7 linked regions of the Homo sapiens genome follow. The protein of the gene in region 1 purifies or fractionates together with the protein of each later gene. This does not show direct contact. Each region holds a gene or a part of one and is shown on either strand. Other genes may lie near its edges. The genes, in order: TACR3, TTYH3, MFSD8, FARP2, PRKD2, TVP23C and RAB3B.

Evidence for each region.
Region 2: the proteins of TACR3 (region 1) and TTYH3 purify together in Homo sapiens (affinity purification with mass spectrometry; one large-scale study listed by BioGRID and IntAct). This does not show direct contact.
Region 3: the proteins of TACR3 (region 1) and MFSD8 purify together in Homo sapiens (affinity purification with mass spectrometry; one large-scale study listed by BioGRID and IntAct). This does not show direct contact.
Region 4: the proteins of TACR3 (region 1) and FARP2 purify together in Homo sapiens (affinity purification with mass spectrometry; one large-scale study listed by BioGRID and IntAct). This does not show direct contact.
Region 5: the proteins of TACR3 (region 1) and PRKD2 purify together in Homo sapiens (affinity purification with mass spectrometry; one large-scale study listed by BioGRID and IntAct). This does not show direct contact.
Region 6: the proteins of TACR3 (region 1) and TVP23C purify together in Homo sapiens (affinity purification with mass spectrometry, with the first as the bait; one large-scale study listed by BioGRID). This does not show direct contact.
Region 7: the proteins of TACR3 (region 1) and RAB3B purify together in Homo sapiens (affinity purification with mass spectrometry; one large-scale study listed by BioGRID and IntAct). This does not show direct contact.

The regions. Positions count from the first base shown.
Region 1 is NC_000004.12:103,713,486-103,716,985, reverse strand, and holds part of TACR3 (neuromedin-K receptor), read left to right. Parts: intron 1-3,500. UniProt on the Homo sapiens protein: This is a receptor for the tachykinin neuropeptide neuromedin-K (neurokinin B). It is associated with G proteins that activate a phosphatidylinositol-calcium second messenger system.
Region 2 is NC_000007.14:2,648,986-2,652,485, forward strand, and holds part of TTYH3 (protein tweety homolog 3), read left to right. Parts: intron 1-581; coding exon 582-654; intron 655-927; coding exon 928-1,003; intron 1,004-3,201; coding exon 3,202-3,257; intron 3,258-3,500. UniProt on the Homo sapiens protein: Calcium-independent, swelling-dependent volume-regulated anion channel (VRAC-swell) which plays a pivotal role in the process of regulatory volume decrease (RVD) in the brain through the efflux of anions like chloride and organic osmolytes like glutamate.
Region 3 is NC_000004.12:127,920,174-127,923,673, forward strand, and holds part of MFSD8 (major facilitator superfamily domain-containing protein 8), read right to left. Parts: intron 1,791-3,500; coding exon 1,687-1,790; intron 1,599-1,686; coding exon 1,351-1,598; coding exon of another isoform or gene 1,342-1,350; exon of another isoform or gene 664-1,341; coding exon 457-663; 3' UTR 1-456. UniProt on the Homo sapiens protein: Outward-rectifying chloride channel involved in endolysosomal chloride homeostasis, membrane fusion and function. Conducts chloride currents up to hundreds of picoamperes.
Region 4 is NC_000002.12:241,488,785-241,492,284, forward strand, and holds part of FARP2 (FERM, ARHGEF and pleckstrin domain-containing protein 2), read left to right. Parts: intron 1-926; coding exon of another isoform or gene 927-947; intron 948-1,177; coding exon 1,178-1,260; intron 1,261-2,276; coding exon 2,277-2,395; intron 2,396-2,731; coding exon 2,732-2,895; intron 2,896-3,500. UniProt on the Homo sapiens protein: Functions as a guanine nucleotide exchange factor that activates RAC1. May have relatively low activity. Plays a role in the response to class 3 semaphorins and remodeling of the actin cytoskeleton.
Region 5 is NC_000019.10:46,703,615-46,707,114, forward strand, and holds part of PRKD2 (serine/threonine-protein kinase D2), read right to left. Parts: intron 1,036-3,500; coding exon 881-1,035; intron 778-880; coding exon 555-777; intron 1-554.
Region 6 is NC_000017.11:15,549,984-15,553,483, forward strand, and holds part of TVP23C (Golgi apparatus membrane protein TVP23 homolog C), read right to left. Parts: intron 1-3,500.
Region 7 is NC_000001.11:51,980,701-51,984,200, forward strand, and holds part of RAB3B (ras-related protein Rab-3B), read right to left. Parts: intron 188-3,500; exon of another isoform or gene 1-187. UniProt on the Homo sapiens protein: The small GTPases Rab are key regulators of intracellular membrane trafficking, from the formation of transport vesicles to their fusion with membranes.

The sequences.
Region 1 (3,500 bases):
GATATATTTTATAAGTTAAAGAAAACCTTTCTGAGGTTGACACTGAATCATGGTGCCTTCTGCATGGACTTACTGACTCATTTAGCTAAGAATATAGTAAACAGTATATATTTCCCAATTTAGACTACAATTGAAGTGTGAAAACTTCAATTATTTAATTTTGAGTGTTTTCTATCCCCACTGAATATAAACTGAATTATATCAACCTAGCCTAAATGGAAAATATATTCAATTCGCTTTGTTCCTGTGCCTAAAATCAAAAGACCCGTGATCTTGAAAATAATTGCAACTTTGACTTGGGCACATATGGCTTTTGTTCAGCTGTAGCAAAATGGTTGCAGCCTCTTATGACTCTGAGAAATGACAGATATTCCCTCAATGAACGCCTGTATCTTACAAATGGAGAACCTTAAGCTAATGGTCACACAATTGTTATAATAAAAGGCATTGAGTTTTCCTTGAAGTGTTCAGCACTCATTTTGTACTGGAAAAATTACTTACTTTCTATTTTCACGATTTAAATAATATTAGTAAGTTTACTAGATTTGACTGTGAGATCACCAGTTCTGGTCTTATTCTGAAGCACATTAACTTCTGATTTGCTACAAAGTCCTGCGAAACTGTTTTCTAATTTGCCAGAAATCCATCTTCTAGTTCTACACATTTCCTTCTTGCCTAGAAGTCTACTTTACCACTACCAGTACCTGTCTCCTCACCCCTATACCTCCAACACACACACACACACACACACACACACACACACACACACAAGATAAAATTATTTGTCAGTGAAGAGTTGCTTTTCTCTCCACCATCCTTCCCCAATTTGCCATTTTGAAAAATAACATATAAATGTAACACTTGCCTCAAAGATGATAAGCTTTTCCAAGATTATGCAGTACAGTCAAGATTCAAATCACTGCAGTTAGCTCCAGGGCCAGTGATTCTCTTCACCTCTACACTATTATGACACCTAACAAGTTGTGATGACTGCAGGGTTTGATTAGACAAAGTCATTACCTTTAATCAAATTAGAATTTAGTACTAGTTTAAACTGTTTATCTTACATGTATATATAACATATCTTACATATATATATATTCTATGTTTTACTTGAGAAAGTAGAAGGTAGAAAATTATTAATAGAACAGTTATTACAATACAAATATTTTGATTTCCATTCATTTACGGCATATAGTACTTGATGTATGGTCATATTAGAAAATAGTTACATATTTTCTTTCATTTTCTAAGCACATGCTTTGAGATTAGGTTAGAAATTATAGGAAGTTTTATTATAACATATAGTAAATGAAAATTTCAGGGCATATGATCCAGTATTGATCTGAGTATTTAATTAAATATTTTTTTAAACCACATACACTGTTTCTTGTAAACCTTAAGGGAGTGTGTTAGTCTGTTCTCACATTGCTATAAAGATATACCTGAGACTGGGTAATTGATAAAGAAAAGAGGTTTAACTGGCCCATGGTTCCCCAGGCTATACAGGAAGCATAATGGCTTCTGCTTCTGGAGAGGTCTCAGGAAACTTACAATCATGACAGAAGACAAAGCAGGAGCAGTAGTCTTAAATGGCAGGCAGGAACAGGACCAAGAGTGAGAGAGGGAATGTGCTACACACATCTGAACAACCAGATCTCACAAGAACTCTATCAGGAGACAGCACCAAGAGCATGGTGCTTCACCATTCATGAAAGATCCACCCCATGATCCAATCACCTCTCTCCAGGCCCCACTTCCAACATTGGGGATTACAATTCGACATGAGATTTGGGTGGAGACACAGATCCAAACCATATCAAAGAGTAATTACTGTTTTATCTAATTGTTCAAAAGCTTTAAGAAAGATAGCAAAAAAGTTGTTCTGTAAATCCAGTGGCATACCTTACATGAATAATTATTAAAAGGAGCGTTCAACAAAACTGTGTAAGAATAGTAATGGCCAAGTAGATAAAAATTGGTCTTCTATGCTACCCTTTGTTGTTTTTAATTTATTTGGTAATCTTCTATTTCACTTTTACATAAACCTAATTTATGCAAAGTACTCAAAGATCCTCTAGGAAGAGCTTTTGAAAATTATTCTGAACGAATAAAAATATAGAGTCATGAGAAATACTGAGGTCTTAATCTAGTAACAGATTATCTAAATGTATTGTGGTAAATTTTGCATCATTACCAACATTATAGATATGAACTCTGCTAAATTTTTAAAAAATCCTTTTTCGGTCTTTAATTTGAGTACCAAGTGCAATATCCTTTCTCTGCACTCTAGGAAAAGTCACTTTCCATGCAGTTAATACTCTTTATTAGTGTTATAGTTATACTTGACTCACTATCACTAGTTACCGCAAATGATGAACTTTTTAGCCTAAGATCAACTGTTACATATTTTTGAATTATTTACAAAATAGTAACTAAAACTATGGTAAAATTAACTTTCAGGAAACTTATCATAACTGTTTGGCTCTTTCTAAAATTTGTAATTCTCATTCAATAATTTTAAAATATCCCATTTGCATCCACTAAAATTACTGCTCTAGTGAGTTGTCAAAGTTCAGTTAAAATTATAGTGCCAATTCTTATAAAATTGTGAGCGTATAGTGAAAGCAATAAATATATATTAATTGAATGGGTAATAAGATTATCACAGAATCATATGTAATCAGAGGTTGCTCTTTTATAACTAGCTGAACTCCGGCTGATATCAAGGTTATATTAACCACAACAGAAAAGTGTATGTCAAACAAGAATTTATGGCATATTTAACAGGCATAAAAATCCTTAATATATAACATATTCTTATTTATTAAAGAAAAAGTATATCCCCAGTGTAAAAAGAACAAAAGACATAAACAAAATCCAAAAAAAAGAAAAATGTCTAACAAGCATGAAAGTATCATTTGCTTATATCCCATATTTTCATTTCCTTATGTGCTATTTGCTCTTAAAGCCACTCAAATCTCATTATTTTCCCAACACTGTCCAAAGAGCCACACTGAGAAATCCAGTGGACATTTCAGTCCTTGACTTCTTTGACCCATGAGCAATATTCCTCACAGGTGGCTACTGCCTAGAAGTCTCACCTCTCGGCTTCCAACTTTTCTGATATCCTTCCTCCTTAGCCTCTCTTCTTTGGCTGTATTTCTGAATCTCTGCCTATACATAATGATTAAATGCAAAAGTTGCTTTATACTAAGTTCTGGGCCTGTTTTCTTCTTCTTTATTTCCTGTCCCCAACCAATCTCATCCAGAACCATGACTTTATTTTCCACTGTGATTGAAGAGCTCCTATTTTTTTCTGTCTAATTGATTTTCTGTCTTTTTTTTCCTTATTATTATTATTATTATACTTTAAGTTCCAGGGTACATGTGCACAATGTGCAGGTTTGTCACGTATGTATACATGTGCCATGTTGCTGTGCTGCACCCATTAACTCGTCATTTACATTAGGTATATTTCCTAATGCTATCCCTCCCCC
Region 2 (3,500 bases), on another chromosome or scaffold:
TGGGGTGTGTTTTGGGGATCTGAACTGGGATATGGGGGACTCGTGGTGGGGGCACCTGCAGTGGGGTATGCACAGGAGGCCTGTGTATCTGGATCAAAGGGAGCCAGATGTGGGTGAGGTGAGGCCTCAGATGAGGGAGAGGCCAGTGCCGTAGCAAGAGCTCTGAGTCCCCAGTTGCTGAGCGAGGGTTCAGCACAGGAGGGCTTGATCTAGCTGACGTTATCAGGCCCCTTGGGCTGCTACGTGGGCGGCGGGATGCGGGGACCCACGTGAAAGTGGACACTGTTGCCTGTTCAGGAGAGGGACCTGGGGGACAGGAGGGGCGGGGCCCCAAGAGCCACGTGGCCCTCCAGTCCTGCTTCCAGCTCAGATCTCTGAGCCCCACCCCACCTAGGAGAGGGATCCATCTGGGCCCTGGGCTGTGGGCAGCTCTGGCTGAGGCCAGGCCACAGGAAGAGCCCCAGCCCATGTGTGGGCTGACCCCTGATGTGCACTGGGACCTGCCTTCTGGCCTGCAGCCCAGCAGGTGGCACGGCCCCCACCCTGGCCTGGGGGCTGCTGACTGGCTGTCTCTGCCCCAGGGTCTGCCTGCTGGGAGTCCTGGCCCTGGTCATCAGCTGGGGCGCGCTGGGCTTGGAGCTGGCTGTGTCCGTGGTGAGTGGCAGAGGGGGTGAGGTCCCCGGCTGCTGGACCTGGGCACTGGGGGAGGGACGAGGGGAAGCCACACTCCTCTCCCCTCCCATCTTCCCGGGCACTGGGTCCCGAGAGCGGTGGGGACCCACCATGGGCACAGTCCACCTGTAACCCCAGATTCACAGTCCACCCTCCTGAGTTGAAAGCAGACTCCAGGGGACGGGTTCTACCCCCGAGAGCTTCCCTTTAGGCCCAGCTTGGTCAACCCCTCTTGCTTGCCCACGCCCACCTCAGGGCTCCAGCGACTTCTGTGTGGACCCTGACGCCTACGTGACCAAAATGGTGGAGGAGTACTCGGTGCTGAGTGGGGGTGAGTCTGTGTCCACGGCCGTGTCCCAGCGGGTTCCCCAGGGTTGGGCTGAGCCAAAAGAGTGGGGTAGCTGAGGCCGAGACACCCCTGCCCTGTGGGTCCATGGTCTCAGGGAGACAGGTCCCAGGCCAAGATGCTAGTGAGCAAACAGGACCACCTTTCCCAAGTGGGAGGCTCTGCAAAGAATGACAGGAACTATGTGGGGTGGCGGGTGCCCGCGTGGCAGGGGGAGCGGCAGGTGACCCAGGGCTGCTTCGAGTAGATGCCCAGGGGAGGCCAAATGGGTGGCATTAAAGTACAGCCAGAGGTCTGGGTGCAGTGGCTCACACCTGTAATCCTAGCACTTTGGGAGGCCGAGGCGGGTGGATCACCTGAGGTCAGGAGTTCAAGAGCAGTCTGGCCAACATAGCAAAACCCTGTCTCTACTAAAAATACACAAATGAGCTGGGTGTGGTCGTGGGTGCCTGTAATCCCAGCTACTCCGGAGACTGAGGCACGAGAATTGCCTGAACCCAGGAGGTGGAGGTTGCAATGAGCCGAGATCGCACCACTGCATTCCAGCCTGGGCAACAAGAGTGAAACTCCATCTCAAAAAAAAAAAGTAGAGCCAGAAGGACGCTGCATCTCTTCTAAGAGCCCCGAGGCAGGAGGCAGACCCGAGGGGAGAATGGAGGGTGGGAGGCCAGTGGGGCTGAGTCTCTGTGGCAAGCTTCGCTTTATTCCAGGGGGAGGCCATTGGAGGGAGGGAGGCAGGGGAGAGATTTGACCCATGATTGAAGGTCCCTTTCAAAGCTTCCTCAGGCCTCAAGGGTTACAAGAGTGGGTGAGGAGGATACCTCAAGCAGGAGACAGCAGGGGCTTGAATAAATGGAGCAAAAGGTGGACAGGGATGGGCTTTGAGGGCGGAGCTGGCAGGACTTCCCGGTCAGTTGGATGTAGGGAGCGAGAGGGACGGAGCAGGAGTTGGCGTCCCTGGTTTCAGCAGCTCTGTGCTGCGGGACCATAAGCTGTACTGTGGGTGGGGGAGCAGGTCTGGAGGTGGGGGGCAGGGAGCTGGGGCATCGGGAGTTTCGGCCCCCTCGGGAGGTTTGCGATGTGTGTCGGACGGCACAGAGGCAGGTGGACGTGGGAATCTGGAGATCGGGGTGCCGTCAGTGTGTTAAGCTTCTCAGGCCCCCCTTGTGGAATTATTGTGTGTTCCCCAATAGGAAATAGAAGGCCTGTCCCTGTGGGGGTGAGGGTTACTGAATGACCTTGAAGGTGACCATCCTGCCACCCTTTGTCCCTGGAGGCCACAGGATTGGCTTGTGGGCTGGTTTTTTACCTGCCTTTGTTGAAGGAACCACTTCCACCAAAGCCTGAAGAGCCTCCTGGAGGAAAAGTCATCTGCCGCCCACTGACCTTGTCCTCGGGGGCGAGGGTGGAGGGGTGGGCCCGCTCTGCTAGGGGCGGGGAGGGCTGGTGACCGCTCAGTGCTACCCACCACTGTCCTTGGCCCCGGTGCTATCATCCTGGTCCCTCCAGGTCCCTACTGTAGCCGGCGGCCTTTGGGGGGATCTCATCAAGTATGAGCAGCGCCCCCTACACGTGTACATGTACACACGTAAGTGTGAGCTCCAGCCTGCGGGCCAGACAGCCCCTCCCAGAAGGCAGCAAGGCCAGCCACGCTGGCTTCACTGCACAGGCGGCCACAGTGATGCCTGGTGCTCTCCTATGTTGTTAAATACTTTCATCATTTTTTGAACTTTTAAAATGTTTTTTTTTAATGTTCTTTTATAATTGGAAGAACTGAACTTGTAAAGAGTTCGGAAGGTGGAACCCAGGCAAGGGGCAGTGTGTGGGGACTCTGGCTTGATGGGAGCCCAGACCCCACTGCCACACACACAGACATAGGCATGTGTGTAAATGCATGCAGACACACATGCGAAGACATGTACACACAGACATGCACACATATAAACACACAGACACATGCACACCGGCACACGTGCACACGAAACGTGCACAGAGACACATGCACGTGTAAGTAAACATGCAGACACATGCACATGTGTAAACAGGTGCACACAGACACACATGCACACATGTAAACATGCACGCAGATGCCCTGAAGATATGCGTGCAGACACAGGCAGACGTGCACGCAGTCTCACAGGGACAGCTGTTGCAGCTCAGCCTTCCCTGATGTCTCTCCGCAGACATCCTGCAGTACTACCTGGCCTGCTCGCCCCGCGCCGCCAACCCCTTCCAGCAGGTGAGAGCCTGGGAGGCCGGGACTGGGCTTCAGGAGAGTCTGAAGCACATTGCTGTGTGTGGAGGGGCCCAGCAGGCCTGGCGCCTGGCTCCTCAGCCTGCAGGACTGGGGAACTGGGGGAGGGAGCTGGACAAAGGCTGTGTGGATGTCACCAACAGCCCCTGGGGTTACCATGCCGGTGACCTGGTGACCTGGCTGAGAGCCTTTCGGGGGGACCTGCTCAATGCACCCGCATCGCTGGGA
Region 3 (3,500 bases), about 24 Mb from region 1:
AAAAAGTAGGTGTCTGAATAAAAATACCTCTACTTGGGTAGAGGTATTTAAAATTCTATAATTTTGTTCTGCTATGGCTAATTCTTACAGAACCCTCTTTCTGGTTCCACTGTATATTATTTTAATGACACTTCTGCAGTGGGTATTAAGAATACAGCTTCACATTTATTCATCATTGTCCATTCACTCATTAGTTCATGCAACCACAAAAAGGTATTATAAGAATAATATTTCATTTCTGAGGTAAGGAAATTATCATCTAGTATGTTTTTATATAACCTACTATTCACAATGACATGTAGAATTCTCTCTGTTATTCAACATATGTTCTTGTTCTTCAAAATCTGCAATATCTGTAGTCTGATTCTTGGAGACTGGCTCACCGCAATTGTCTAGCAGAGCTTTAGACCAGGAAGTGCCACACAGCAAGTAGTTTCCATCACAGTCTTAGCTAGTTTATTCCTGAATCCTCCCATATCTTACAGAAAGAGCAATGAGTCTTTTGTAAACCACTCCCAGGAGGGTGATGGTGAGCACTATTATTCCACACACCAGGCTGAATGCCCATCGTGGTCCCCAGTGAGCATACACTTGGCTGATGAACATAGGCCCAAGAATCCGGGCTCCACTTCCAGATGCTGTTAACCAGCCCATGTATACACCCTGTTGGGGGTGAAATGGAGGACAAGCAGATTGATATTGGGGTTTAGTTATTTAAAAGCAAAGAAATGGTATTACCAAACTACAGCAAACTTACAAGAATCATTTCTGCATCTTTTACTTTTAAATTAAACATAAAATGCCTCCTATAAATATAGCATTTAATATTAAGTCAGATTAAAAAAAATAAAAGGAGTGTAAAGGGAAAAACTTACTGTCTGCTGAAGCCCTGGGAATAATAAAATTGATTAAAATACCTTTTAAAGCTAACATTTATTTTGTACCTGCTACATGCCAGTCACTGAGGTAGGTGCTTTAAATACATCATTTGTAATGTTCACAAGTTTCGATGACAGGTGTTATGCCTGTTTAACAAAGGTAGAAGCTGAAACTCAGAAAGTTTAAGTAACTTGTTCAAGAGGTTTGAAGCCATATTTGGCTGACTCCACTGTGCCACTTTACACTCTACCACAATGCCACTCCTACAACTTCTGTATCCAAAACTATAACCCACATAACCTACCCAAGAATGAACTTTATAGAAGTTGTGGGATTTTTAAAAATTTTAAATGCTGAATATGATAAAAATCCCTCAAATCAGTCTGTGTAAAAATAGAGAATGGCAGCAAAAAATGTTGAGTGCTTACAAGTATATTTTCTATAATTGCAATGTCAGGGTACCTGGCTTACCTGAGGTTTTGGTCCTAGAATTTTTGAATATAGAGTATAGGACATAAGATTGCAGACTGGATAGCCTAATCCTATTAGCACAGCTGATGTAAGGAACTGGGCCAGATGAATCACCGGGGTGTAGAGGCACCAGGCTTGTTCAATCGAGCAACCAGTTGGTCTTTCATTGTCATCTTCCATTGGAGACTTCCAAAGACCAATAATAATTTCCCCAAATGTGGTATTAGGGATTGAATTATTGTGCAAATCTGTAAAAACAAAACCATTGCAGTGCATTACTTGTTGATTTTAGATAAATAACAGAGGTTAACATTATAGAATTATGTATGGCTATACCTTCCCACTGTATTTTGGGAAATTGATTTCCCCAAGGTAACAAGATAAAGAAGCCAACCCATACAACGATGAGTCCTCCCAGTAGAATAGCACGCTCGCCAATCCTGTTAAAGAACAGAAACTCTGTAATTTTAAAATGAAACATTATAACATAGCTTCATTACTTTCATAATTTTAAAAACTAAAAATAATATCTTGTACTTTTAGTGATATATCCATTAAAAAGAATGCTAAATATAATTTTCCACTAAAAATAACCAGGACTCCTCTGAAAAATGGCTGACTTAAGGTCTGGGACACAAAAAGTAGATGAGCTCAGATCTTTCACAGCAAAAAGCACAGAAGTTATCAGTGACTACTAGGTCATGAGTCTTTTTGACTCAGCCAATTTGAAGAAGCTGGCCAAAAATGTGACAATGTGAGTACCAAAACAGAATAATAATGGCAATGGATTGAAACACACAAAAAGTATTATCATCTGTGGCCTGGTGTAGTGGCTCACACCTATAACCCCAGTACTTTGGGAGGCCAAAGCGGGAGGACTGCTTGATGCCAGAAGTTCAAAACCAGCCTGGGCAACATAGCAAGACCCCATCTCTACAAAAAATTTTAAAAATTAGCCAGGAGTGGTATTTGGTGCCTGTAGTTCTAGCTACTTAGGAGGTTGAGGCAGGAGGATTACTTGAGCCCAGGAGGTCAAGGCTGCAATGAGCTGTGATGGCACCACTGCACTCCAAACTGGGTGACAGAGCAAGACCCTGTCGCCAAAAAAAAAAAAAGTGTTATAATCTATGAATTCATAGTATATTAAAATAAAGTACTCTTTGGTCAGTTTTTGAGGATGTTAGGGAAACAAAAGAAAATAATCAAGCCTTTATCCTGCCTTTCCTATACAACTATAGCTCAGGTTAACCAAATAGTTGGTGAGGGAAAGATTCTCTTCATGGTAAGTATTCTAGCAAATAAATAAAGGAATGATAGAATTAAAATACCAGAATTTTGTAATGATTCATTAATGAATTAATGGATCTATGGAATAATCAGTGGCTACTTACATGTTAAGAAGAGATAAACAAAACATTATATTTCTTCTGATATAAGCACATATTCCCACCTATAAAGTATTCTTGCCAAAAAATTGAACCCAAATTTCATCAAGCTTCTAGATGCAAGTACTAGTTTTTAAGAAATACAGCAATCATGTCATCTGCAAACAGAGGCAATTTGACTTTCTCATTTCCTAATTGAATACCCTTTATTTCTTTCTCTTGCCTGATTGCCCTGGCCAGAACTTCCAACACTATGTTGAACAGGAGAGGTGAGAGAGGGTATCCTTGTCTTGTGCCGGTTTTCAAAGGGAATGCTTCCAGTTTTTGCCCATTCAGTATGATACTGGCTGTGGGTTTGTCATAAATAGCGCTTATTATTTTGAGATACGTTCCATCAATATCAGTTTATTGAGTGTTGTTAGCATGAAGGAGTGTTGAATTTTATCAAAGGCCTTTTCTGCATATATTGAGATAATCATGTGGTTTTTGTCATTGGTTCTGTTTATGAGATGGATTACATTTATTGATTTGTGTATGTTGAACCAGCCTTGCATCTCAGGGATGAAGCAGATTTGATCGTGGTGGATAAGCTTTTTGATGTGCTGCTGAATTCAGTTTTCCAGTATTTTATTTTTTATTTTTATTTATTATTATTATTATTATTATTATTATTATTATTATTATTATTTGAGACAGAGTCTTGCTCTGTCGCCCAGGCTGGTATGCAGTGGCGTGAACTTGGCTCACTGCAAACTCCGCCTCCCG
Region 4 (3,500 bases), on another chromosome or scaffold:
GACTTTATCAAATGGAAGCCTGTGTCTTTGCACTCGAGTTCTTTCTGGGCATTCTGCTCCATTCCTGTCTGTCCAGCATCAGTCCACTCTCTCTCATTAGTGGTGTCATATGAGATAGTCACTGTTTGGTGAACACATTCCATCCCTTATTCTGCCTCCTTTTAAAAAAGATTCTTTGCTATTCTCAAGCATTTAATTCTTCCAAGTAATCTTCTAAGTCATTGGACAAATTCCTTACAAAAACACCATGGAGATTTCAGTTGAAATTGCATTAAATTTTTGTGTTAACTTACGGGAAGACTAACATCTGGACAATGTTTTGCCTGCCCTTGCTTATGTTGATTCAGATTTTTGATGTCCAGTGAGAGGCTTGGTTGGTGTATCAGGCTCTGCACAGGGAAGCTGTCCATTCTGTGGAGTTGTTGGTAACTGGCTGGTCCTGGGGACAGAGAACTGGCCCTCGTTCCTGACTGTTAAGGGAAGGATGATGGCTCTTGGCTTGAAAAGATCATCTTTATCATGTTAACACAGTTTCCTTCTGTTTCTAAGAGGTATTATCAGAAATAACACCTTGGATTTTGGCAAAGGCATTTTCAGCATGTAGAGAATGGATTTCCCTTTTTCTCTTTGACTTCTGATAGGATGAATGTTATCAATCAGCTTTCTAATGCCGAACGATCCTTGCATTCCCCAAACAACCTTACTTGATCGTGGGACAATTCCTTGTTACATGCTTTTAGATTAGATTTGGTAATATTTTATTTTGCAATTATTTCATCTAACTACTTAAAATTAAAATTAATCCACAGTGGGTTTTCTTTGAATCTAGCTCTGTTAGGTTTTGGTCTTTGGTTCATAAATGAATTGTCCAACTCCCTTTTGGATAATCAAAATGCTCAACATTTTTTCCTTTGCTTGATTTTCAGCTAATAGTGCTGGACCCCCCGGTGAGTATTTGGGTGCCCTCTGGCCCATGGCTCACCCCCTGGGGTGCAGCTGCCATGGCGCAGGGATACCAGTGTCCTCCTTGGCCTCTTGTAGAGTCTGTGTGCACTTGGACAGCACTGGGCTTCCAAGCCCCACCTAGCATTGCCAGCAGTCACCTTGTGTCCTGCTCAGGCTTAGGCTGTCAGTTCCTTCTTGGCCACAAGACTTGGACCGTTTCTCCCACCCACAGGTGGAAGAAAGTGATAACGAGTGGTCTGTTCCACACTGTTTCACCATCTACGCGGCTCAGAAAACAATCGTGGTGGCAGCCAGGTAAGGGTCTTCCATGTCTCCATCCTGAGCAGCCCTGGATGGAGGGGTGGGGACTTCCTCGCCATGAGCCTCTGAGTCCTCTGAGCTGTGAGGAGCCATGTAGCCTCATGGGGTTGTGCCCCCTTTGACTCTGAGCTCTGCTTCCAAGTCACACAACCAAAGGAGCAGCCTCGCCCTTGTCAGGGGCAGGGCTGCTTGCCAACCTGACAACACCCCACAAGTGGCAGGCCCCAGTGCTGTGGAGCCGCTCCCTCTGCCCTCCGGTTCACAGTGCCTCCAAAGACAGGACGGGTGAGTGGGCAGGCTCCTGTGGTCTCCCAGGGCACAGGCGCTTCCCCAACCCTCACGTCAAGAAGTGCCAGCAGCTAGTGGTCAAAGCCCCAACAGGGCAGCTTACACCCAGCCCAGCCAAACACTGCCTCCCAGTCCCAGTGTGGTATAGACTCACATGAGGCAGCCCAGGCTATGGCACAGAATCAAGTGGAAACAGCTCCCTCCTCCCCAGATAAGATCAACAGAAGGATGACACTGAGCTCATTTGGCGGCCAGGATGCAGGGGCCCCTGCATGGTCACCAGCACCACACTGTGCTCTGTGAGGAGTCTCAGCTCTGACTCTGCAGCGCCCTGGCCAGCATCAGAGCACAGGGCACTCAGTTCCCACCAGGAAATGCTCACTTAATCATGAACCAGGGCCAATCTTGCATTTCAGCATCACAGATGTAGAGAACATCATTTCAGGAACAAATACCCCTGCAGACCCCCTGTTCTAGGACCGGGGCCCTGCCCTGGCACCCACAACCCTGTCACAGCACCCTGGAGGTCAGGCTGATGCAGGTCCCTCCCAGCTCTCCTCCCTGCTATTCTCGCTGGAGGGGACACGTTTCCCAGTCCTCTCACCAGGCAGGACAAAGCAGAATGTGAGAGAACAGGTGCCCTGACGGCTCGCCCTCCCTTGAGGGCTGGGGCCCTACACAAGGAAGAGCAGAGCCACTGAGCCTTGCCCTTCTCCCTGCAGCACTCGGCTGGAGAAAGAGAAGTGGATGCTGGACCTGAACTCCGCGATCCAAGCAGCCAAGAGTGGCGGTGACACGGCCCCTGCACTGCCAGGCCGCACTGTGTGCACTCGTCCCCCCAGTGAGTGCTGGCCACAACCCCCCAGGAGACCTCCACTACACCTAAGGAGGCTTTTTTTGGAAACTGTTTTCCTTGGTCCCCATTGGCCCGCTAAGTTCCCACACAATCCCCTTCCACAAGGAATGTTCCAGGCTACGCCTCATGCCTGGGCGGGAAGAGGTGTCAATCAGCTGCTCTGGCAGAAGCACCTGTAGTTTTGCTCTCAGCCAGCAGCTGGCCTAGCACCAAGGGCTCCCCATTTCCCCAGGACCCCCGAGAGGAACCCAAGGGGTGGAAGTATTTGGCAAGCAGAGGCCACAGGGGGTTCCCCCTGAGACGCTGCTGACTTCTCCCCAGGATCCCCCAACGAGGTATCTCTGGAGCAGGAGTCAGAAGATGATGCTCGGGGTGTCCGCAGCTCCCTGGAGGGGCATGGCCAGCACCGGGCCAACACCACAATGCACGTGTGCTGGTACCGGAACACCAGCGTGTCCAGGGCAGACCACAGTGCAGCTGTCGAGGTACGACCGCATGAGCACCACCTCAGTGCATCTGGAATGTTCCCAGCTGTCTCTGCACTTGGCTGCTGAGGAGGGGACCTCAGGAGGGTACCAGCAGGCAGGCTTGGCCCCAGAGGACTGCCTCTTACTCTCCCCTTGGTAGAAGTTGGTATGGAAAGTGCCCCTCATCCAGTCAAGCCCTCTTTGAAAAGGGTGTTTCAGGTCTGGTGTCTGATGAAGTCCAGCAGGCGGGGCGTGTCCTCAGGGCCTGGAGCTGGTGTGTAGTGGAGCTGAGAAAAGCCTTCCCAGACACATCCCCTGCAGCCCCCCGTCCCAGTGCCTCCAAAACCCTTCACCTCGGGCTTGGAGCTCGAGGCTCTGCCCAGGCACCCTGCCATAGAAGGTTGTCAGCTCTATCTCACTGCATGGGCCCGGTCTGCCATTGTGGGTCACCAGGTTCCTCAGCCTGGTGCCCCCACACCCTTCCCCAAGCCTGCTGTCTTACTCCACCCAGAGCTCTTGTCTTTTTTGCTGTCTCCCCATAATTCACCCCAGCCACAATCGGCTGGGCAGGGGCTCAGGAGCTACCCCAGCACCCCCGTGAGGGGGCTGAGCCCGAGCCTCTC
Region 5 (3,500 bases), on another chromosome or scaffold:
CAAAAAAATTAGCCAGGCATGGTGGCGGGCGCCTGTAGTCCCAGCTACTCAGGAGGCTGAGGCAGGAGAATGTCCTGATCCCAGGAGGCAGAGTTTGCAGTGAGCCGAGATCACACCACTGCACTCCAGCCTGGGCGACAGAGTGAGACTCCGTCTCAAAAAAAAAAAAAAGAAAAGAAAATTAGCTGGGTGTGGTGGCACCACCTGTAGTCCTAGCTACTTGGGAGGCTGAGGCAGGAGGATCACTTGAACCCAGGAGGTTGAAGCTGCAGTGAGCCGTGATTGCGCCACTGCACTCCAGCCTGGGTGATAGAGTGACACCCTGTCTCCAAAAAACAACAACAACACACACACACACACACACACACACACACACACAACTGAGGTTCTAAGATTCCAGAATTCCAAAGGTCCCAGAACACTAGGATTCAGGGCCCTCCCCTTCTGAGGCCCTGGGGTCCCAAGGCTCAGATCCTTGTGTCCTGCCACAAGACCAGGTTGGGGCGGGAAGGAGGTTCTGACCCTGTCTGTCCTCCCCGACAGGCCCAGCTAACCTTTGCATTGCAGGCCCTGCCGGAAGAGGCCCTTGAGGAGTTTCTTGCAAGCCTGGCAAACGGTGGGCCGTGTATAGCTGTGGATGAGGAAGGTGTGCGGCACCTTGACCTTGGAGAGCAGCATCTTGTCCAGCTCAATGGGGCGGCCCGTATACGATGAGGCAGAAGAGGAGGAAGAGGATGACGGGGGACGGCGAGGCAGGAGTTCGGTGGTGCTACGGCTCTGTCGTTGGCAAGAATGGAGGGGACACATCAGTGCGTTGGCCCCATGCCTGGGCCAAGTCACCCCCCTAGCCACCAACCCGTCCCATCCCCCATCTCCTCACCAGCTCTTCAGCCGTGCAGGGCAGGGACTCGGAGGTGCCGAGGCGCACCGAGTGGCCACTGGCCAGAGACGTGGATGACAGGCGCCGTTTGCGGGCCCCACTACAGTTGTTGGGGATGCTGAAGGCACAGCGCTTGTGGTAGTTCAGCCCGCAGCCTGCAGGGGGCGCCAGAGAGTAAGAGACATGGCGTCTGCCCCTCCTAGGTCTCTTCTTGAGAAGTTGTGCCCTTTCCACCCAATCTCTCACCTGGTCCTGTCCCATCACCCCCCGCCAGCACGATCTCCTCCAAAAGGCACTACTATCCGTAAGTGTATCAGCCCCTTCAGGCCCACCCCTCCTTAGAGTTCTGCCCCAAGTTCCAGCTTGTAGCCCCACCATCACCCCATCTGTCCCCCAGACCCTGAACACACCCACACCCCTTTTCTCACTCCAACAAGGGACACCTCAAAGGCTCCCCCCAAAGCTCTGTCCCCAGTTTCAGCTTGTAGCCCTGCCATCACCCCATCTGTCCCCCAGACCCTGAACACGCCTCACACCCAAAATTTTCCCACTCCAACAAGGGATACCTCAAAGGTTCCCTCCAAAGCTCCACCCCTAGTTCCAGCTTGTAGCCCCGACATCACCCCATCTGCCCCCCAGGCCCTGAACGCGCCTCACACCCCACCTTTTCCCACTGCAACAATGGATGCCTCAAAAGTCCCCGCCAAAGCTCTGACCCAGCCCCAGTCCTCTATGGTAAGCACCTCCTTCTAGTCCTCCCCAAAACTCCTGTCCATCTCCCTAGAGACACCTGTTCCCCCTTCTAACCCTGACCTTCCTTTTTCTGAGGCCCCTTTGGTTCCCCCTCTTTCCCCAACCCCAACTTTCCAAAAGAAAATGCCTCTCCTCACCCCCACCCCTAAGGTCACTATCCCTCCAGGTCTGCTCACCCCCTGTACCCCACTTTCTCTTTTCTGTAGACCTGGAATCCAGGCAATCCCTAAGTAGTGTGATTAAATCTTAGTAGTGTGGGCCACGCATGGTGGCTCACGCCTGTAATCCCAGCACTTTGGGAGGCCAAGGCCGGCGGATCACTTGAGGTCAGGAGTTTGAGACCACACTGGCCAACATGGCAAAACCCCATCTCTACTAAAAATACAAAACTTAGCCGGGTGTAGTGGCACACGCCTGTAATCCCAGCTACTCCGGAGGCTGAGGCAGGAGAATCACTTGAACCCAGGAGGCAGAGGTTGTAGTGAGCTGAGATCACGCCACTGCACTCCAGCCTGGGCAATACAGCGAGACTCAGTTTCAAAAAAAAAAAAAGAGTTCTCAGTTGTACTCAGGTCCATTGTACCATACTAGGCAGAAGTATGACTTCTTATTGTCTTATTTTATTTTGTAGAGACAGGATCTCCCTGTACCCCCGGCTGAAGCACAATGGCACAATCATAGCTCACTGCAGCCTTCAACTCCTGGGCTCAAGTAATCCTCCTGCCTCAGCCTCCTGAGTAGCCAGAACCACAGACATACACTACCATGCCCAGATAATTTTTTTATTTTTATTTTTTTGTAGAGATGGGGTCTCGCTACATTGCCCAGGCTGGTCTTGAACTCCTGGGCTCAAGTGATCCTCCCACCTCAGCCTCCCAAAGTGTTGGGATTACAGGCATGAGCCACTGTGCCCTGCCTATTTTATCTTTTAAAATCCTCATCCATGGAGAAATCAGCTCAACTCCCTGTTTCCCACTGGACGTTCTGTATGTGTGCTCTAATACATCTCCAGTGATTCCAAACGATTCCAGGATCGCTTTCTATTCTGGAGTGAAGAATGTTCCTCCAGCCTTTGGGAGCCCTTCTGGTACCCGCCTGCTCCAGGCTTTCCAGTTCCACACCTCCTCATTGTAGGCACTGTCTTGGCTGCATGCTGTAATCACGGAGGCAAGCTTGGAGAACGGTGTTGGCCCTGCAAGAAGAGCTTCAGCAGGGCAAATGGTCTTTGCACACAGGAACCATTTCCCAGTGTTGGCCTTGAATCACTCATGTGCCTTCCAGAATTTCAGAATCTTATCTATAACTCTCAGAATGAGTCTCAGGATAGAGTTAAACTCCTGTCGGAATGTAGTCATTTGGGGTTCTCTTGCCACCATAGGAACTGGGACCATCATCTGTGATGCTGCACCAGTGAAGTCTGTGCTGATAACCCATTAGGACTTGATGACACCAGGGCTGTATCATGACAAAGACTGCATATGCTGAGACCTCAAGAGTTGGATATGGTGTGTGGACGATGGCAATATTTATAAGAGCTTTTAATGCACTGAATCAGTATCTGCAGGCCTAGAGTCCTTAAATAATACAAGTATACTTTGGACTGCATGATGATCTGGAACACAGGATATTGGAGAAACTGGATTTCTTTTTTTTTTTTTTTTTTGAGACGGAGTCTCACCCTGTCACCCAGGCTGGAGTGCAATGGTATGATCTCGGCTCACTGCAACCTCCACCCCCTCAGGTTCAAATGATTCTCCTGCCTCAGCCTCCCGAGTAGCTGGGATTATAGGTACCCGCCACCACACCCAGCTAATTTTTCTAGTTTTAGTAGAGACAGGGTTTCACCATGTTGGCCAGGCTGGTCTCT
Region 6 (3,500 bases), on another chromosome or scaffold:
AAGAATGCTCTCAGAATACTTTCAAACTCTTCTGTTTCCATTTTCTAACTCTTTATTTCCTGCTTTTATCTTTATTAGTTTATTTTCCTGATTTCTCACACTTATTGCTTGTTTTTGAAATTTCTGGACTCAAGTAGTCCATTATTTTCCCTCTTTCTTGTCTAAAATAAAAGGCTTTAGTCTATTATTTTCCCTCTGAATTCAGTTTTTGACATATTCAGAAAGTTTAACTGTAAATGATCACCATTAAGGTATAAATAACTTATATTTACAGTTTTTGCTTCCTTTTAAACCCAAGATATGTAGTAGTTCGCTTTTTTAAAAGAATTCCAATTTCAACAACTACTTTCTATTAATTTCTAGTTCTGTTTCTTTGGAGTAGAAAATGTAGGTGCTTTGGGCAATTTTATTTTGATTTTCTTCACAGTGATATTTAGTCAATTTTTGTAAATGTTCCACAGGCATTTAACAAGAAAGTATTCTCTCTGTCATACAAAGTCCCAAATACTGCTATCAAATTGATGTTGCCAATTATTTCATTCAGATCCTTCAGAACTTATTTATTTTTTGGCACTTTGGTTTGTTTAAGATAGTAGTTTGTTAAACTCATCATAATGCTTTTCTATTTTCTAATATTTCCAATTTTTTTACTATACATAGTTTGATATAATTTTACTCTGTGAATGATCTTCACTGTGATTCATAAAATCACCTTTTTTTGTTCCTCTTAGTGCTTTCTTACTCTGATCCATATCTCATCTGATAATAATACAATGCCAAGTTTCTTTTTGTTTGAGTTGATCTTTGCCTTCTTTTATTTTTGCCTGATGTTATCTTTGCCTTCTTTTGTTTTTTCTAATGTCATTAATTTGGTTAGATCTTTTGTTTGGACTTTGATTTCTGACCAATCTTAGTATTCTTGTCTTTAAATGGGTAGTTTAATCAAATTACATTTCCTATTATAATGAATTTGCTATTACTTACATCACTTTATACATGTACTCTCTGATTTAAGCTTCCTTGACAGTTGCTTTGTTTTCCTTCTTTTGCTCTATGAACTGTTTTACTTGCTCCATCTTCTCCAATGTTGCAGAAGATACACGACTGGTTTTAAATTTTACTAATAGTTGCCATTATTGTTTTTTTTTTTTGAGATGGAGTCTTGCTCTGTTGCCCAGGCTAGAGTGCAGTGGCGCGATCTCGGCTCACTGCCAAGCTCCGCCTCCTGCCTCAGCCTCCTGAATAGCTGGGACTACAGGCGCCTGCCACCATGCCCGGCTCATTTTTTTTTTTTTTTTTTTTTTAGCAGAGATGGGGTTTCACCATGTTAGCCAGGATGGTCTCGATCTCCTGACCTCATGATCCACCCGCCTCAGCCTCCCAAAGTGCTGGGATTATAGGCATGAGCCACCGCGCCCAGCCATAGTTGCCATTAAATTTTTAAAGCCATTATTTAACCTTTTTTACTCAATTTGTCAGAGTGAAGAATAAAATAAAAACCAATATAAGCTTTAGCATTTAAGCATACCTTTAAATTATTTTCCCTTCTCTACCTCTTCTTTATCTTCATTAACATCACCTAGGGCAAGCCTATCCAACCCTCTGCCCACAGGCCTCATGCTGCCCAGGACAGCTTTGAATGCGGCCCAAGAGAAATTCGTAAACTTTCTTAAAACATTATGAGATTTTTTTGTGTGCGATTTTTTTTTTAAGCTCATCAGCTAATGTTAGTGTATTTTATGTGTGGCCCAAGATAATTCTTTCTTCCACTGTGGCCCAGGGAAACCAAAAGATTGGACACCCAGGGGTTTAGATGAAGATTGATTTTTTGTTTTTTTAGTAAGTACATTGAGATTTATAACAATTACGACACATCTCCATTTTAACTGTTTCAGAACCCTGCTTATCCCAAGTCCACTTAATAATTTCCCTATTCTTGACTTCTTAATTTTGCTTCATATCTCCATTGTTTTGCTATCTATAAGTAATTTTGCCAAGGATAAAAGGGTGCCATTTTTTAAGCTCTTGTTTAAAAACAAAAATAAACAAACAAATAAACCTTATCAGAAAATAAACTATTTTGATCGCATTTTTTAAAACTCTAAACCCAGAAAAATTTTAAGAATTTGGAAATTACCAGGAAGAACTGACTGGAAAGCATGTTCTATTTGGCTAAACAGAAATTTTATGAACAACAAAAAGAAACGTGTATCAAAACTGTGAGCAGTATGTACTAAATACTTTGGAGCATAAAGTAACAGAAGAAATTCAAAGAAATGCAAGCCAAAGAAGACTGGACAAAAGAAAAACCTAAAGAAAACAGACCTTTGAAATCTTCCTTCTCAGCATTATGCGGCCTACGGAAACTGGCCATCACCAAGCCAACCACTTCAGATATCTTTAAGAATTAAAAGATGGCCAGGCGCAGTGGCTCACGCCTGTAATCCCAGCACTTTGGGAGGCTGAGGCGGGCAGATCACTTGACGTCAGAAGTTCGAGACCAGCCTGACCAACATGGAGAAACCCCGTCTGTACTAAAAATACAAAAAAATTAGCCAGGCGTGGTGGTGCATGCCTGTAATCCCAGCTACTCGGGAGTCTGAGGCAGGAGAATCACCTGAACCCAGGAGGCAGAGGTTGCGGTGAGCCAAGATCATGCCATTGCACTCCAGCCTGGGCAACAAAAGTGAAACTCCGTCTCAAAAAAAAAAGAATTAAAAGATCTAAAAATGGCTACATTGGTGGATGTGAATAGGGTTGTAACATCTTACTAGTCTTTGAATCAGTATATGTCTCTGAAACTCCAAAATCAGCCTTTGATTTTTTTCTCCACTATTTTACTATATTTTCGAACACACACAGTTAAATTTTACAGTGAATACCCAAATATCTATCATCTAGAGTCCATATTTAATATTTTATTATGCTTACTTATCTATTTATTATGTACCTATCTATCCATCCATCCATCTCTCTAATCATTGTTCTTGAGTTTGAAACCATTTCTTACACTCCTTTCTATCCCCTACAGCAGGGTGTCTCAACCTTGGCACAACTGACATTTTGGGTCAGGTAGTTCTTTGTTGCAGAGGGGCCGTCCTGTGTGTTAGGATATTTAGCAGCATACCTGCCCTCTAGCCACTAGATGTCAATAGCACACTCCTCCCACCTCCAGTCATGACAACCAAAAACAATTTTGGACACTGACAAATATTCAGTGGGTGGCAAGCTTGTCTCTGGTTGAGAAACACTGCCTTAAAGCATCCATAGGAGCCTTTTCAAAAGGTAGGTATTTTTTAGGTATTTGTGGACAAACTACACTGGGGCCTTATCTAGAAATTATATACAACACACCTACAGGTAAGCCTGAAGCAAAACCCATGGTATGGATTAGAAGCAACATTGTAGGGTCTATGGTTGCTAGTCACATTTGTTTGTTTATTTGACTTTAAAGCTGATGTAGGTTAGAATATGGCACAGAAAAATCAGCAGCACAGTAA
Region 7 (3,500 bases), on another chromosome or scaffold:
TGTGCAATTCACAGCAAAGTAGTCAGGAATCGATCTCATGAAGCCCGCAAGGACCAAACACCCCCACCCTGATTTAGACCTGTAGGTGCTGCCCCACGACCCCCACCAAAGCCCATGTAAGGAGCTGAGTCCTTAAAGACTGAAGATGGACTATTTCCTGGAGAAAAATAAAATGGAAATTGTACTTTAAAAAAAAGCCATCTATTTTAATACTATGTTTTATTTGTTAATTTAAAAGGTAATACATACTTACGGAAAATAATTCAAGCATATCCTATTTGCAAGTATTACCTTTTTTACCAGCTGTAGCTCAATTATTATTATTTTTATTTTATTTTATTTTATTTTGAGACAGGGTCTCTCTCTGTCGCCCAGGCTGGAGTGCAATGGCACTATCTTGGCTCACTACAGTCTTGATCTCCTGGGCTCAAGCAATCCTCTTACCTCAGCCTCCCGAGTAGCTGGGACTACAGGCATGTGCCACCATGCTCAGCTAATTTTTGTACTTTTTGTAGAGATGGGGTTTCACCATGCTGTCCAGGCTGGTCTTAAACCGGGATCAAGTGATCTGCCCTCCGTGGCCTCCCAAAGTGCTAGAATTACAGGCGAGAGCCACCACACCCAGCTGCATTATTTTCTTAATTCCTAGCATAAAATACAAGTAATATGAAACCTAAAGGTTTACACTGAAAAGTAAGTCTTGCTTCCATCTCTGATTCCTGATCCAGTTCCCCTCCCCAGAGGCATACATGTTATCAATTTATATATCCTTCAGAGATAGCCCTTGCATATATAAGCAAAGAGACCTATTTATACTTTTTATTTCTATATAAATAACATACCATGCATTCTAGTCTATACCTTCTATGCATATTGTAATAGCTGACATCATATGTACAAGGTATAGGCTAGAATATATGGTATGTTATCATTTAGCAAATCACTTAAATTTTAAAAGTACAATCATGAACTGCATAACAACATTTCAGTCAATGACAGACCACATGTACAATGGCGGTCCCATAAGATTATAATGGAGCTGAAAAATTCCTATTGCCTAGTGACATAGTAGCCATGGTAACATTGTAGCACAACACATTACTCACATATTTGTGTTGATGCTGGTGTAAACAAACCTACTGCATTGCCAGTTGTATAAAAGTATAGCACATATGATTATGTGCTATACATAATACTTGATATTGATAATAAATGACTATGTTACTGGCTTCTGTATTTACTTACTACACTTTTTATTGTTATTTTAGAGTGTACTTTTTCTATTTATATTTAATATTTTTTAAAAAGTTAACAGTAAAACAGCCTCAGGCAGGTCCTTCAGGAGGTATTCCAGAAGAAGATATTGCCATAAGAGATGACAGCTCCATGCCTATTATTGCCCCTGAAGACCTTCCAGTGGGACAAGACATGGAAATGGAAGGCAGTGATATTGATGCTCCTGGACCCTGTGTAGGCCTAAGCTCAGGTGTGTGTATTTGTGTCTTCCTTTTTAACAAAATAATTTTAAACATAAATTTAAAAACTAAGGAAGAAAAGAAAGAAAAGGCCAGGTTCAGTGGCTCATACCTATAATCCCAACACTTTGGGAGGCCAAGGTGGGAGGATCGCTCAAGCCAAGGAGTTTGAGGCTGCAGTGACCCATGATTGCACCACTGCATTCCAATCCAGGTGACACACTGAGCCTTCATCTCAAAAAAGGCCATACGGTGTATTTGTGCTTTAAGTTAAGTGTTGTTATAAAAGAGTCTATGGCTGGGCATGGTGGCTCAGACCTGTAACCCCAGACTTTGGGAGGCCGAGGCAGGCAGATCACTTAAGGTCAGGAGTTCAAGACCAGCCTAGCCAACATGGTGAAACCTCATCTCTACTAAAAATACAAAAATTAGCCAGGCGTGGTGGTGCGCACCTGTAATCCCAGCTACTCAGGAGGCTGAGGCACAAGAATTGCTTGAACTCGGGAGGTGGAGGTTGCAGTGAGCAGAGATCCACTGCACTCCAGCCTGGGTGACAGAGCAAGACTCAATCTCAAAAAAATAATAATAATAATAATAAATAAAAAATAAAAGAGTCTAAGAAGTTTTAAAAATTTTTTAAGTTTATAAGGTTTAAAAGTTATAGTAAGCCAAAGTTAATTTATTATTGGAGAAACATATTTTTAAATAAATTTAGTGTAGCCTAAGTGTAGAGTGTTTATAAAGTCTCCTATAGTGTATGGTAATGTCCTAGGCCTTCACATTCACTCACCACTCACTCACTGACTCCCCCAGAGCAACTGCCGGCCCTGCAAGCTCCATTCATGGTTAAGTGTCTTATATAGGTGTACCATTTTTTATCTCTTATACCATATTATGCCTGGGTGCAGTGGCTCACACCTGTAATCCCAGCACTTTGGGAGGCCAAGGTGGGTGGATCACTTGAGGTCAGGAGATAGAGACCAGCCTGGCCAACATGATGAAACTCCATCCCTATTAAAATACAAAAAATTAGCCAGGCATGGTGGCAGATACCTGTAATCCCAGCTACTCGGGAGGCTGAGGTTGCAGTGAGCTGAGATTGCACCACTGCATTCCAGCTTGGGTGATAGAGCCAGACTTGGTCTCAAAAAAAAAAACCATCATATTTTTACTGTACCTTTTCTATGTTTAGATGTGTTTAGCTACACAAATACTTACCACTGTGTTACAATTGCCTGCTACATTCAATACAGTAACATGCTGTACAGGTTTGCAGCCTAGGAGCAATAGGCTATCTATTCCATATAGACTATGTGTATAGTAAGCTATACCATATACCATATAGGTTTGTGTAAGTATACTCTATGATGTTCATACAACTATGAAATCGGCTAATGACACATCCCTCAGAACATATCCTTGTCATTAGCAATGCAAGACTGTACTTAAATACTACAAAAATTTAGTAGTACCAAAAGTACTACAAAAATATGAGATTTTGAGGCCAGGTGCCGTGGCTCAGGCCCATAATCCCAGGACTTTGTGAGGCCGAGGCAGGCGGATCATTTGAGCTCAGGAGTTTAAGATCAGCCTGGCCAACATGGTGAAATCCAGTCTCTACTAAAAATATAAAAATTAGCCAGGTGTGGTGGCGCACACCTGTAATTCCAGCTAGTCAGGAGGCTGAAGCACAAAAATTGCTTGAACCCAGGAGGCGGAGGCTGCAGTGAGTCAAGATTGCACAACTACACTCCAGTCTGGGTGACAGAGCAAGACACTGTCTCAAAAAAAAAGAAAAGAAAGTAAGGGCTGGGCGCGGTGGCTCATGCCTGTAATCCCAGCACTTTGGGAGGCTGAGGCGGGTGAATCACGAGGTCAGGAGTTCGAGACCAGTCTGGCCAACATGGTGAAACCCCATCTCTACTAAAAATACAAAAAATTCGCTGGGCGTGGTGGTGGCTGCCTGTAATCCCAGCTACTCTGGAGGCTGAGGCAGGAGAATCACTTGAACCTGGCAGGCGGAGG